Linked DNA regions of Homo sapiens: region 1 is linked to region 2. A link means that fine-mapping ties the variant in region 2 to the expression of a gene that starts in the linked region. Tissue or cell type: esophagus muscle. Region 2 holds a variant in brackets; the other region holds the start of a gene. All regions are shown on one strand. Distances are from middle to middle.

Region 1 (5,779 bases), 89 kb after region 2:
GGGCTTCTCTGGAAGTGACGCAGCACTGCTGGGGATTGGGATGGGAGGGGGTTCTGCAGAGAGCGCGGCAGGCAGGTGGCAGAGCGGGAGTGGGTCCAAGCGGGTGTCGCGCACACACGTACACACACTCCAAGCAGCGCTCGGGGACAGATGTGCGAACATCTGGGGTAGGAGATGGCCCCTGAGTCTTCACGACCCCTCCCGCTCCGCACAGCACACGGAACCTGAAGTTGCATGTGTGTGCGCGCCAGTGTGAGTGCCAGTGTGTGCGCGCTCGCGCGCTGGGGCCTACTGGAGTCCGTGTCTGAATACATAATATACTGTGGGCATCCTCACGGCGCGCGCGCGTGTGCACACACACACAGCGAATCACACAAACATACATAATTTACGCAGCATCCAGGTCTGTGAGTGGTAATTTAATTCCGCTTCAAGCTGGGAATTTAGAAATAAGGCAAGGGGGAACGGCGGAGGCCCAGAAAATCTCCCCAAGTGGGACCCCCACCCATCCCTTTGGCAGGATTTGCAGCTGCCCTGAAGACCACTTATGGCAAAGAAAGAGCTGCAAACGTGCGGATCTGGGTGGCAAAGGCATTCCTGAATTTTCTTCCCCCCTCAAATAAATGCCCAAGCTTAAAGTGGTGTGTGTGCTGGTGGGGGGCGTGAGGAGAAGGAAGGGTGACAGTACCAGATGCAAGGCTAGGATCCACTAGCTGATGTTCTGGGGATGCCAAGGAGGCTGCAGAGTTAGCTCTACCACTGCCGCCATCGCCTTGCAAGTGCCTTGGGTGAGGGCACTTCAGGAAGGCTTTTTCGCCTTTCTTTCACCCATTTCCTCCATAGATGGTTTCTCCATCTCCAATCACCTGTAGCAGCTGCTAAGAGTTTTGTTGTTAGATTCCAGACACTGTTCTCAGAGGGGTAGGGAGGCTCACTCTAGAGAGTGGTCCGAGAAGGAAGCACAAACCCCACTGCATTCCCCATGGATTCCCCTTTCCAGAGCATACCCCTTGCCGCTCCCCACAAATGCGGTCCCCAGACTGTTCTGGGCCTCGAAATGCTTATCTCCACAGCAGCCTGTCCACACACCCTTTTTGGCAGTGGTTGAGAACAAATTCCACTCAAAAGTTTCTAACCACTTCACAAGAGTGAGAGACCTTCGAGGGCCTGCAATTTGTTTTAGCTAATAATAATTTCTAAAAGAACGTACGATTTACTTTCCCAGACAACACATGGATGAAGAGAGAAGAGACCAACCGTCTTGGTTGCCAGCAGCACCCAACCCCAAGCCCCTATCTCAGCCACAAGCCAACTTGCTCCACCAGCCTGAGCCTTATGATTCTGAAGCATAACCAGTCATTCTCCAAAGAATCTACAGCATCTGAAAACCAAAACTAAACTCTTGTCTTTCCCAAGCCCTTCAGTTAACATTGCTCAATGTAGCTAAGTGGAGGGAATGCAAATGATTTATATTTCACTGGCTAGTTGGAGAAACTCAAGGGAGATGTGTTCTGCTTCAAGACAGGGAAAAAAAATTCCCAAAAACTGTAATGCAAAGGCTTTGTAGTATTTTTAAACCTTTGATTCAGTCCATATGTGACATATGAACACCGCCAAATTCTGTTTCAAAACACACTCACACACACACACACACACACACACACACACTCCTAGCAGGAGAGGAAAGTTGGGTTTTAGCAGCCGTGGTGGTGTAGGAAGGGCCGGCTGGGATCTCTCTTTAAATTATTGAGTACTGAGGGAGCCTTCTTCTGTGCCGTTCTGCGTGGCCTTCCTGCTTTAGCGGTCACTTTTAAAGGGGAAACCATGTTGCAATAAATAGAAAAACTTTCAGTGGCTTACCTGGTTGGCCTCTCACTTGGTGTCTTGAAAAGTAGAGGGCTAAGAAAACCCAGGTGAGAGGAAACATATCCATTTTGGAGAAGGTGGCTCTTTCCAGAGCTGGGTTCGTAGGTTTCTTGTTTAAATCTTTGTGTTTTTCTCTCTTTTATTTTCCTCCTTACAACGTCTTATGCAGAGGTTTCTAATGGTCAGCGTTTCCCTCCTGAGTCCTGGTGGCTTGTCTTCACCTCTATTCTTGCTGGAATTTCCACCTCACCAGGAGGAGAGTAGCTCCTGAAATCAGCAAAGAGGGAACAAGCCGGGAAGAGAACACGGTTTTCCTCTTAAAAACAAAACGCATATATGTTCTCTCCAGTTCCTCAAAGTGTCATTTCCTTTATCCTACAAATATCACGAGTATTTCCCGAAAGCCAAGCGTAACAATAATGATAATAATAATAATTAAAACCAAGACTTGCCTTGGGCATCACACGGCCCCCAGGCAGCTGTGTGATCTCAGAGGCGTAAACTGACACACATCCCGCGGCACCCTTGACGGACACACGGGCGGAGGCAGCCGCCGCCGGACAGCCCGAGTGGAAGGCGGCCGCCCTGCTCTTGTCCTCGCCGGGTTCCCCCGGCGGGAGCCTCCCCCAACGGCTACACCCGCTTGGCCAGCCTCTCGAGGGGAGTCTGAGGAAGGAAGCTGCTGCTGCTGTTGCTGCTGCTGGTGCGGCGGCGGTGGCGGCTGGGATCGCCTGGGAGTGAGCGAGCCCCTCTCCGAGTTCGCTGGCGCCCGCCCTCACCTCCACCTCGCCGAGTGTCTGTGCGGCTGAGGATGTGCTGGGGGCCGGCTGCAGGCTGGTGCCTCGCTCGCGATCTCTGCCTCCCCTCCGGCTCCCCACTGCCTTTTCAGGCCGAGCAGCATGTGGATGTCAGAGCCGCGGCAGAGCTATCCGATTACGCGCCGGCTCAGGGCCCGCCCCTTCTGTGTTCCTGATTAAAGAGGCAGCCGCGGAGACGCGCGGCGCAGAGCAGAGTGCCGCGGCACCCAGCTCGGGCGGGGCGGCGACGGCTTCTCTCGGGCCGCCGCAGGATCGAAGTTAAGGCGGCGCCCATCCCACCACCCCTCGCCCGCCCCGCATCTCCCGATCGCCCCCGCGCACCTCCGCGCCGGGCCGCCGGTGCGTAACGCCCTGGGGAAGAAGCGCCCCCGGGCACCCCCAGGGCGCGCCGCCTTGGCCGTGTCGCCCCCACCCAAGGGAGACCCCGGGGGGACGGGGGGAAAAGCCTTGTTCCCCCTAAATTCCACGACTCCGATGCCACACACGCAGAACCCAACACAATGCCACGCGCGATGGCGTTACAAGAGGAGTTGGGTGGCGTACGGTGTTTGGGGTAGCGAGCCGGTCGGCAGCTCAGCCATGCGTTCGAACAGGCAGCGGTGCGTGGCGGCGACACACACCGTCAGCCCGGTCTGAATAAAACCCCAAACACTCGCTGCGTTTACTACTCAGATCCTTTGTTATGTCCCAAACATGCTCTGCTCCTCTCTGGGTTAGGATTTCGTTACCCCTGCGCCTTTAACTGTAACTACCCTAAAAAGAGGAAAGACTTTCTTCAGCAAATAATTTCTTCAGGTAATTAAATTGGATTCCATCAAGTTCCCCCGAAAAAGTATAGGTGCTTGAAGGCGTCTCATCCAAATGCTACTGTAACTACGTCTATTCACATTTTCCCCCATGGAAACGTGGTCACAAAGCCTAGAGAAAGAAAACATCATTATGCCAACTATTTTTAAATGGAGGCGTGAAAACTGTTTAGAGGGAACTGCAAGCTAACAGTTGGGGAAACACTTGTATCTTTGTTTCTGAGGATGGCTTTGTGGATTCCAAACTGTCTTGCTTCACCAGACACCTATTACTACATTATCATAAAGACTGCAACAGAAACAGCCTAAATTACACCCTGCACATGTACACCTTTTCTGCCACAAAAGAGGTATATGAAAAATAAGAAAATTCAGAAAAATATTTACAGATTAAGATTTTTTTTAAATTAAGAAAGTAAAATTTTCTGTAGATTAAGAAAAATACAGTTTCGGTGACGAGAAACACACACCTGACTACCCATTTTCTTCTTGGCTTGTACTTGTGGATTCTTCTGGGTGGTTTCCCTCCTTATCTGGACTTGCCCATTAGCTTTATCACTTTTAGTGTTTGAAAAATCTGTAACTCCCACTTAACTGTTATTTACACTGAGATAACCAAAACAAAATTGAATCAGAAGTGATTTGCAAATAGTTGAGCCAAGCTGTGTTGGGGGGTGGCGCGGGATTTTAGAGTGGAAATCCACAGGCTGAGTATCACACTGTTAATCTCAGATGCCTGGTTGGGAAAGGCACAGCACAGAGGCCTCTGAGTTCTTCCAGGGAGCATGTCTCTTGGCTAGCCTAAATGCTACCTTTCATTCCCTCTTTGCCTCCCTCCTTCCTCTTCCTCCCTCCTTTCCTTCCTTCTTCCTTCCTTTCTAGGCTTGAGAGCACATCCACATTATTAAAAACTCCAGATTTACATTTCTCCTCTTTAAAGCTCAATTGTAAAGAATGACTCCAAGCCTTAAATATTTAACAAAGTAAAAGAGCAGTTTGGATTATTAACCTTAAGCAGAGATCCCGGTTTATGTCATTGCCAAGATGCTAATCTAAGGACAAAGAACGCTATCTGTAGTGACAGTCCCTGAATAGAGAGGGCCATTTAATATCACCTCTCCCCACCACTCACCAGGCATGCCAAACCATTTTTGCCAGTGCCCAATGTGGGAGACTCCTGTTTGTGAGAATAATGTAGCCAGGGTTTAGGTGAAGGGCACTGTGAAAGGGGGAAAGAAGAGAGAAAAGGTAAACCTAAGCCCACTGGAGAACCATAAGAATGACAACCCTGGACTTCTGGTCTTGGGGTCTCAGGGATGAAGGTCCCCATCAGGCTGCTTCCAGAGTAGAGAAAAGTAAGAATCAGTTTTGTTCCTGGCCTGGTTGCCTACACTGTAACTTTTCATTTTTCAGCGGTGTCCTACAGGGGACGCTCACTTACTTCCTGGGAGTCCTCTGTACCAGGGCTGCAAGACTTCCCACTCCCCTTGAGTGAAGGCCTCATTTCCTGCAGTTGGACAGAGAGTGAGTCTCAGGTTTCCATCCCTGGGGACTCAAGCGGCCAGACCATTTTTCAATCCTCTAGGGGGCAGCACTCAATAAATAATGGTAACACCACCCAGGGTCACACTTCTGGTGGTGCTTTTAATTCCAAGGAGTTCAAAGTGCTTTATCAGACCAGGGAAGATTCAGAGTGAGGCCGATCTCTCCCCAGCCTACTCTGAACAAGACCCCACCGGCCCAGAGAGGGCTTAGAATTGTTTTAACCTAAGACTTCCAAGGACTCTTGGGAACTAAACACAAATCTCACATGTGCCACATGGAAAACAAATCTTTAGGGAAATTCTTCACACTGGGACTGGCTCAGACCTGCCAGTCTTGTTTCCCTCTAGACTGGGATCTCAGGGTTTGACTGCAGTTGGTCTGGTTTCCACCAGAGGTATAGTGGTAAAGAGCTAGGTAGGCACCGTGCTTTTCAGTATTTTGTGAGTCCACATCCCTGGCCCATAGGGAAGCCTGCCTACCTAAAGGCCAGTGTCAAAAATCGGGTTTGTGATCAAAAACACTGAGCTGACTAGATAACAGCTAATTAGCGAAGCTGAGATTCCTGGCCACATCACTGACTCACCTAGGATGTTTCATGTCATTATCCTTAGTTGTAAAATAATACTAGATAATCCACTCCACATTCCATTCCTTTGACGGGAAGGGATGTGGGGGAACATGAAACAGGTTGGTAAATGATGCTAAGAGAAAGCTGTTACCAAGCCACACCCCTGTGGAAAGTTA
Region 2 (8,576 bases):
GTAAGTATGGGATTCAACCAAGAATGGTAGAATTACACATCTCTTCTCTTTCTGTTCAACCACAATCACTTTATAATATATGGAAGTGTTCTAATTCTTTCTCCCTCCATCTCCCTCTCTCTCTCACACACACACATACACATACACAAATACATACAAGTAAATGATGCTGACATGACTTCCGGGATTCAGTGAGGCAGATTTCCTGAGTGGTGGAAACACCATATTTGGTCTGGCTGGCCAGCATTCTCAGCAACAATGTATTAATTAAGCTGGCTAGACTTGAAGGTAAATTCCACTTTGGCTTGCCAAGGCTTCTGTGCCCATTGAAATTAGCCTGGTCTTGCCTAGACAGGTCAATCACCACTGTTAAGTCATGACTAATGCATCCTCATTTTTTAATTGGATGGAGGATTTTTAAAAGCAGATTGGAAGGGAAGTTGCAACAAAAAAAATGTGGGCACAAAATGACAGAGGGTATGTGAGAGCGAGAGTGAGTGAGTGAGAGAGAGAGGGAGGGAAATCATTCTTAATGACAGAAAAGACAGAGCAGGGAAGAGAAGCTGGCAGAGTATTTAGAAGGCAACCACGTTCACTGGCCGCTGCCGGTTGCTATGGAGATGATGTAGTAGATTTAAGCCCAGGGTAACTCTGGGGAAAGACTGGCTGGAGTCCCACTTGATGCAAAGCAGTGTTACAACTTGATTCTCCCAAAGATTTACATCAGATGAGAATCTGGCCCAGAAAGGGACTAGGAGCTTTTGAGCTTGCCAAAACCAGACATGATCTTTACTTCTGAAAAATGATATATGCTTCTCCTATGAAAAATGCCTCCCTAGCTGTTTGCATTAAGCCGGAAAGATGCATCCTCTCTACTCATGGGGTGCCCCAGCAGGGGAGCCATGGGTGGGAAGTGCTGCGGGCTCCTTCATGCATTAGTGGTCCTACCCTGTGAGCAGAGGGTGGTCCCCCTCTGCTCAAGATGCAAACGGGGCTCATTTCTATTTTCATGCCTCCTTACACTACCCACCCTAAGATTCAGAGCTCCTTAAGCAGAGGAACTCACTCTCATCATGAGGAACTTGCTCTCATCCATACCTAAGGGTTTATACAAAGAAGGCACTCAATAAATGCTTGGTGAATCAAACACTGAACTGAGGCTAAGACTCCTATTTCTGAGTCTGTGTTCTCTAATTCCTGCAGCCTGAACATCAGAACTCCTCTCTTTGATCTGGGGAATAGGTGGGAGGTGGGTCAGACCTTCTAATGTCTTCTCAGAAGTGATAGAAAAATGAGAACATTTTTCTTGGAAAATATTTCAAAGCCTGCTCAACTTCTTAGCTCTTAATCACTGCTTTCTCCTGCTGTATGAATCCCCTTCCGCTAGGGTGCAGGTTCATTGGCACCTCTTGGGTGACCAGAAGTCCCACAACATTGGCAGAGCTTTGACAAGGATGTGTTGCTCTGCACACACCTTGACAGCCACATCCACAACCCCTGGGGTAGAAATGACCCCAGAATCCCAGGATCCCCTGAATGTCCCTTTATACATCTTCCTCTTCTCCCACCTTATTGCCTGCCCTCTTTGTCTTTGTCCCCAAACTAATTCTGTCTTTTACTAGTTTCATTACCATAGCTGAGAAAGGCCTCTCTCTCTCTCATATTTGTGGCCATGGTGGAAATTATGCATAGAAAGAGAGGAAGAGAAAGCAAGGTGCTGGAAATGGCTCCTTGAAGTGGCCAGCTTGCAAGTCACAGTCAACTGGTGTCAATTCATTATTCAGGTCACCAAGAGGATCTGCTGCCTGGCAACCATCCTGCTGCTGGATTTTCGATATGAGCTTACAAAAATGCACAGGAAACATCAAAGTGTTAAGGGATGCCCCCAGAGTTCCTCAGAGACATCCCTTCTCTCCCCAAAGGGTGTCCTGGGGTTTGTCTCTGATTTTCATGTGGCTCCACAGTGAGGGCCATCCCCTAATGAGGCTGCAGCTCACCCATCAAGAAAAGGGAGGTGATAAATCCTCAGGGATTAGCTTTCCCTCTAAAGAAGTACCTGACCAGACCACAGAGGTGGGAGCAGAAATTTTTGTCAAGCAGAACATGGTCACAACTACCCACATTCCCTCCATCACTACATCATCTTTGTTCAAAAGTCTGCTTTCCTTCAGCCAAAATGCTGGTTTCCAACACAAAATACACAACCTATGGCTTAAAGTGCTCAGGCTGGAGAAGGATGAAGCCTTCATGTTTCTCTTACAGTGTTTCTTACGATAAGAGACAATGTTAGGGCACAATGGAGAGAATCAAGGGGACCTGCTGGAGGAAGGTGAAATCCTAGTACATGGATTACATATTTAGAATCAGAGACACAGACATAGTCTCTCAGAATCCTGCTCTACTTGAAAGACAAACTCCACTTTAAGTAAGACCCTCTTCTCCTTCTCTACTTATCCTTCTCTCCCCTGAAATTATCAACATGTAGAAAACTTCAGTGACAAAAGCTACTTGGGGGACATTATACTGGCTCCTTAAACATTTTCTTTGGGCATTTGTTTGGAGAAATGAGAAATAGTACTATGTGAATTCATGTTTTAATGTCAAGAGGTTAGAAATAACGTTAATGTTAGAAAAGAGAGGATATGACTAGCAAACCCTTCCTGATCCCCTACAAGCAACTCTTGGTTGACTTGCAGCTGGGGGCTAGAAGTTTCTCAGAACATTCACTAGCTAAAAAGACTCAACTCCAAAGGCAGGTGGAGTGTGCTGGTTTAGAATCTGGCCCTGTTCCAGCCTTGGAGAGCTGTATGCTAATGAGGCTGTGGTTTGCCAACTAGAGAAAAGGAAGACGATAAATCAATAGGGGTTAAATCCATACCCAAAGCACCTTCCCAGACAACATCAGCAATCCAATGAATGCCAGATGGATGGATGAATAGATAGGTGGATGGATAAATGGACGGATGGCATAGGGGAATATATTTGGACCAATGTTCAGACTCCCTGGAAAATGTTGATGACCTACTGGTACTTCCCTGGAGAGTTATTTTCAGAAAGTGCTAGAGATTTTGCTAGCTCATGTGGCACCTCTATGGGAAATTAGAAAAAGGTGCCCACTTTAGGCAGATGTCACCTGCACCAGATGCCCGAATTGCTGAGTTGTGCAATTTTAGCTTCACTTGCCCCTTCAGCCATCTGGGGGTGATCGAGCCATTGCTTGACAAAAAAGGAGCCTGGGCTAGGTGGGTGAAAGTGTAGGTGAGAATTCAACCTTGCCTGGAGTTGGTTGATCTGTTGACCTGAATTTTCCCTTTGATTGATCTAATTTCTACCGCTTACTCACATGTCTTTTTTCACCTGGAAAACACTTTCAATTCCTGAACTATTTTTCATTAATTCCCACCCCAGATTCTCTACAAAGTTTTCCCATTGTGTGAGATAATCAGAAACAGATACTTAAATAGTCAATAACTGAACTCCAAGTGCATTTGCAAGGTTGCACAGGCTCCCATCTGTAAAAATTCTGAGCCCCCTGGAGAAAAGCAATGCAAACACAAAGAATTTGAATTTTGAGAAACAATAAAGTTTGAGAAACCAGGCATGGGAGAAAATAAGAAAAACAGTTACACATGAGGTAGTGTTCCGGTCATTCCTATCTGCAAATAGGGTCACTATGCAATTGGGAAACGTGTCTGTAACAACGGCCACCCTGAGTGGACATTTCCTGTGTATTAACCATTGGTCTACGGGCTTCACATGAATCAATTTTGTTTATTCCTCATGACCCTCCAAAGGGAGACCTGAGTACTTGAGAGGACAAGTGATTTTCTCCTGGTTTCACTTGGAGGATAATTGTGGAGAAGGGCAGAGAAGCATTCAGTGAAACCCAAGAGATGGCCCAGGGTCCCCTGAGGAACTGTACACTGCTAGCAAGTGTCAGAGTCACGGCTAGAACCAGGTGGACAAAATCCCAGCCTGTGCTCTAACCCAGGGGTCAGCTCACTGTGGCCTATTGGCCAAATCCAGCCCACTGCCTGTTTGTGTAAATCAATTTTTGTTGGAACACAGACACCCTCATTTGTTTACATATTGCTTATGGATGCTTTTATGCCACAATGGCAGAGCTGAATACTTGCAACAGAGACTGTATGTCCTGTAAAACCCAAGATATTTACTATCTGGCCTTTACAGAACAAGTTTGCAGATTCCTTGCTCTAACCAAGTAGGGAGGGAAGAGGAAACAGTCCTCTTCCTTTCTGCCTCCTATTTCTGTCTGAACCTGTCTGAGGATTGGCGTGTCTCAGTCAAGTCAGTTTCTCACTGAATCTCTGAAATGAGAAAGCATATACTATAGCTGCTTTATGAAATATCATCTGGACCTGGGGGAGTCACCCAGGTTTCCAGAAGAAGTGTTTTGAAAGACACCAAGGGTAAGCCTTCTCTCTTTCTCTTTCAAAAAAGGCTCATTGCATGTCAGAATTGTTTTAGGACTGGCCTGTCTGCACAGTCCTTTCTGTACAGGTTAAAAATGAAGTGCTGGTGGAGGAACATTTCACATAAAG[G/T]TTTATTTAATTTGTGAGATTAAACAAACGAAAAAGGTTGGCTCCTCTAGAGAAGTTTACAGAAGATAGTAGAAGAATGTGGTCACGCCCTCTGATGTGTTTGGAAAAAAGACGCACAAGCACAAAGGCATCCCTGAGAAACGACTCTTTCCATCTGCCTTATGAGCATGGTGTGGCGGGAGGCGCCGGGATGTTTTCAGTAAGTTGGCAGAAACCATGTGGATTGCTCCCACATCTAGAGGCATTTTTAAATGCCTCCGAATTCAGATCTCTGACTGGCTGAAGTCTCGGACGCTTCACACTCTTTGGTGGCACTTATGCTACTTTCTGTAAACTGAGTCTTGTCCCTGTGTTCTTGGAGAGAAAAGTTGGTGAAAAACATTTTCTTCCACCCATAGATAAGCTGGCCTCGGCAGTTGTTTACATGAGTGGTAAACTGATGGAGAGGGGACGTGTCAGGCCTCTGTAGCAGGAGAGGTGGCATGCTCCAGCGAACCTCACAAAGAACACCTCTGTGTCCCCTGGGGAAGGATGGCCGCCAAGCAGTTACCCGCTTCACACATCTGATCTCCATGCTTTCTTGCTCAGCAACACCTAGCCTTAATCTGGCAGCTGGAGACATAAGGGGGTGGGGGCAAGGAGGAGGATTCACACACTACAGCTGCCTATCTGGAACCCCGGCAGGGGTTAGGAACACTTCTCTGCCTTTCATCAGACGGTTATGTGCAAAAGCACCATTTAACCCTCTCTGCATCTCAGAAGTGCTTCTAGGAGAAGGAGGCGTGGGAGGAAGGGAGTCCAGGGAGAAAGGGAATGTGAGGCCAGGCCCTGGGATGGGGGACCTTACCCTGGTGGACAAAGCCTTGGGAGGCAGGCAATAGAGGGTGAGGGTGGGAATGGGAAAGGAGAGAAGGGGGTGCAAAATGCAGAGATTGGCCAGTTGGCACCAAAGAAACAGAACTTAAAGCCTAAGGAATAGAGTCAAATGCCAGCCAGCATTACCCCCAAAATGGGCCTCTCTTAATACTGCTCCCCTCTATGCCCAAGAGACAGCTGTGGATGTGCACTTTCTCCTGGTTTTGTCTGGATGAGAACTGTGGAGAACTGCAGAAAGGCACCTAGGGAGACCCGAGAAATGGGGCCCCTGGACCTTAGGAATGGTCTGAGTCATAAACCCCACATTCCCAGCTGAAACGGGAGACATTGATGTTCCTTTTAGCATCCACTAGCGTAGGACAGTCATTCTGAATCCTTCCCTCTGACAACCACCTTCCACAGGTGCACCCAGCTGGGATTTCCGTGAGTCTCTAACAGGTAGGGCACCAGATCGTCTCTCTGCCCGTGCTCTGCTCAGAAACCACAGCCTCTAACACGAACAAAAACTCTTGCCTCCAAGGTGAGCTGCTAAAAATAACCACCTGGTCAACAAACCCCAGAACTCTGATTATGGGCTTCATATATTTTTACTGGCTTCTTTATTGTTCTTGTTTCCTTTATTGAAAAAAGAAAGTATTGGGTAAGAGGAAATAATCCATCACCTTAATTACACCACTTTTCGGTTCTTTTTCCCCCCTTTATACACACGGTTTTTCATTTGTTAAAGCTCAAATCCTAGAAAAAGATACATGACGGCACCATGTTTATAGCCACTGCTTTAAAAAAGAAAAGAAAAGAATGCACACCCAGGCTACATTGTTTAAAATGTGACTCATAACAACCACAAAAAAGGGTCTTTTTAAAAAATCACATGACAACACAGTTTATTCATTCTTTCTTCTCTTTCTCCCTTCTCAACACAGATCTCTTTTTCTTCCAGGCTTTTCTTCATTACTGACTCACATCCTGGCACACAATGTGTCTGTGTGTGTGTGTGTGTGTGTGTGTGTGTGTGTGTATGTATGTATATACACACACACAGCAGAAAACACAGGATGATTTAAATTTAAAATAATATTGCATGGCAAGAAATCAGTAAGAGGCGGAAAATGAAAGATACTTCCAAATATAAAAGATTGCGACCATCTAATAACTCCAGGTCCAAAGGCCACTTTTATTGTATTTCACTAAAGATTTACCTGTACAGTGATTGCTCCCAAAGAATGAGATTACCTTTGTTGCATGATTAATTTATAAGGGAAAAGAAAAACACTCTAATTTGAAAAATGTATAACAATGTAAATGCCTATGGTTGGCAGTGTTTCAACATCAACTTTCCATACCTTGCCTGCCCCCTGATTTCTCTGTTTCCATTTTTTGAGTGAAAAGGCTGATTTTATGCCCGGATCAAGAGAGGACTCCTGCTGTCCTGACCATAAGAGGAATAGTATATGAGTCACTAGGTTAGATGGAACACACAGTCCTCTCCTCTCTCAAACAGAAAAGTTTGCTCAAGGCAGAGTTGCATGCTGTGGTCAAACAGGTCTCAGCCAGAAAGAAGAGACCCATGGCACTAGGTTCATCTGGTTACCAACTCAGATCTCCATGTAAAACGTGCCAAGGTGAATGAAATTCTCCATTCCCAATTCAGATTCTGCTCTTTACTGTGTCCATTGGCCAAGTCTCTGCTCCCCAAGCCTTGGTTTCTTCTTCCCAAAGATGCTTGCCATCCTCCAGGACGAAAGCCATGGCCTAATCCATGCAACTTGTGCACTGCCTTTGCTTAGCCTCAAAGCGGCCCACCAGGAGCACCCTGGAAATTCTTACCTTCAAGTTACTAAGCCCTGTGTTTATTTTGGCTAAATGAGCACTGCTGCTCAGATGAGATTTTATGTATATATTTTTTACAAGAGAGCATGACTGGCCTGTGAAGCCTCATGGTAAGCACAGTTTCAAGGAGAGTGTACGTGCCCTGGTCTGCTTATTCTCTTACGGAAGTGAAGCACTTAGCACTTAGCCACTGTACTTGTCAGTCATGGCCCGACACGGTGTGCACACAGAACAGTGTCTGCAGCAGCTGCTGGCACGTCTTTACCCAGCCTTTCTGGGAGCTGTGAGTCTCCACAACCCAAAGAGAGTCAGGCGAAACAACATCCACAGCTTTCACTTCACCAACATAAGCATTACCTTGGGTCCTGAAGGTTAGAACTCGAATTCGACTGTAATCCAAAGTCGTTCAGTTTGGCTCTCAGCTTTCCTCCAATACTTTGGATTTACATTAACATAAACCTCACCCCCAGAGAGCACCAGTGTATGCACATGAATACTCTTAATACTTTTAGAACTGTGGTACAGGGAGTGGGCATGGGGTTCAGGGACACGAGGAAGGGTAAGAAAGGCAATATATTCTATGTCGGTCTGTCATTCCCCTGTCGTCTGCAGCTTTGTTCCTCACTGGCTGTCTTAGAGCTGATGAGTGGCAAATTGGGTGAGATGATTTGGAGTCAGGGAGCATATCTAGGTGGCAAACCAGGAATTCATCTCTTTCTAGCCCAGAGCTGGACAGATTAATGAGAGTGAAGATAACGAGTCTAGACGGCAGATATAAAAATGGCTGCCCTTATCTCTGCAATGCTGCCACTTGTAGGGGTAAGCCCAGCCAGTACAAAGAGGGCACAGCAATCCTCACAATTGCTGGCATCAAACAGGTCATGAAGAACCCCCATCATTTGGTGAGGGTGTTTTTGTGTGTGCTTTTACACTCAGGCCAACTGCAGTGACGCATTTAGAGTGGCTCCTAAATGTTTGGCATTAGAAACCGGTGTGGGAACTTCAGCAGTGTCCGCTAATAGGTTTGCAAAGAGGGCAAAATGTAAAATCTGCTGCATTGTAACAGCACAAACAACATTGCCATCACCCAAGGCTGGAGGCCTTTTTTTTTTTTTATAACCTGGATGAGGCAAGCATCCCCAATTCTTCTCACTTTGCTCTGCTCTCTCTGCTTTCTCGGGGGAGAACACGTCCTTTCTGATTTTCAGTCCTGCATTTAAAGTGCTCTAGCTCCAGTCATCGAATGCACCTCCTTATTCCCTTGACTGGACACCGGGTCCTAAATGTGGCAACTCTTTCTCCTGAGGC

Which allele goes with the higher level. Positions count from the first base shown, and alleles are read on the strand shown. Sizes are in standard deviations (SD) of each study's normalised expression.
For the expression in esophagus muscle of the gene that starts at base 2,723 in region 1, T is the low allele of the variant in region 2 and G is the other (small effect, 0.39 SD a copy in GTEx).

What was found. PIP is the estimated chance that this variant, and not a neighbour inherited with it, causes the effect.
Region 1: NRP2 starts here. The variant in region 2 is fine-mapped to the expression of NRP2 in esophagus muscle (GTEx, PIP above 0.99). The same link has a PIP of 0.9 or more in gastroesophageal junction and lung.

The regions. Positions count from the first base shown.
Region 1 is chr2:205,679,445-205,685,223 of GRCh38, reverse strand. It overlaps NRP2 (neuropilin 2), which reads right to left and starts at 2,723. Exons shown (of 17, transcript NM_003872.3): 1 at 1,861-2,723. The coding sequence starts at 1,933. RefSeq lists enhancers at 98-728, 5,610-5,779 and a silencer at 3,203-3,322.
Region 2 is chr2:205,767,386-205,775,961 of GRCh38, reverse strand. The region is part of intron 15 of NRP2 (neuropilin 2); the gene reads right to left. Among named protein-coding and RNA genes, the nearest start is that of NRP2, 89 kb to the right of the region's middle. The variant G/T (reference allele first, on the strand shown) is at 4,563.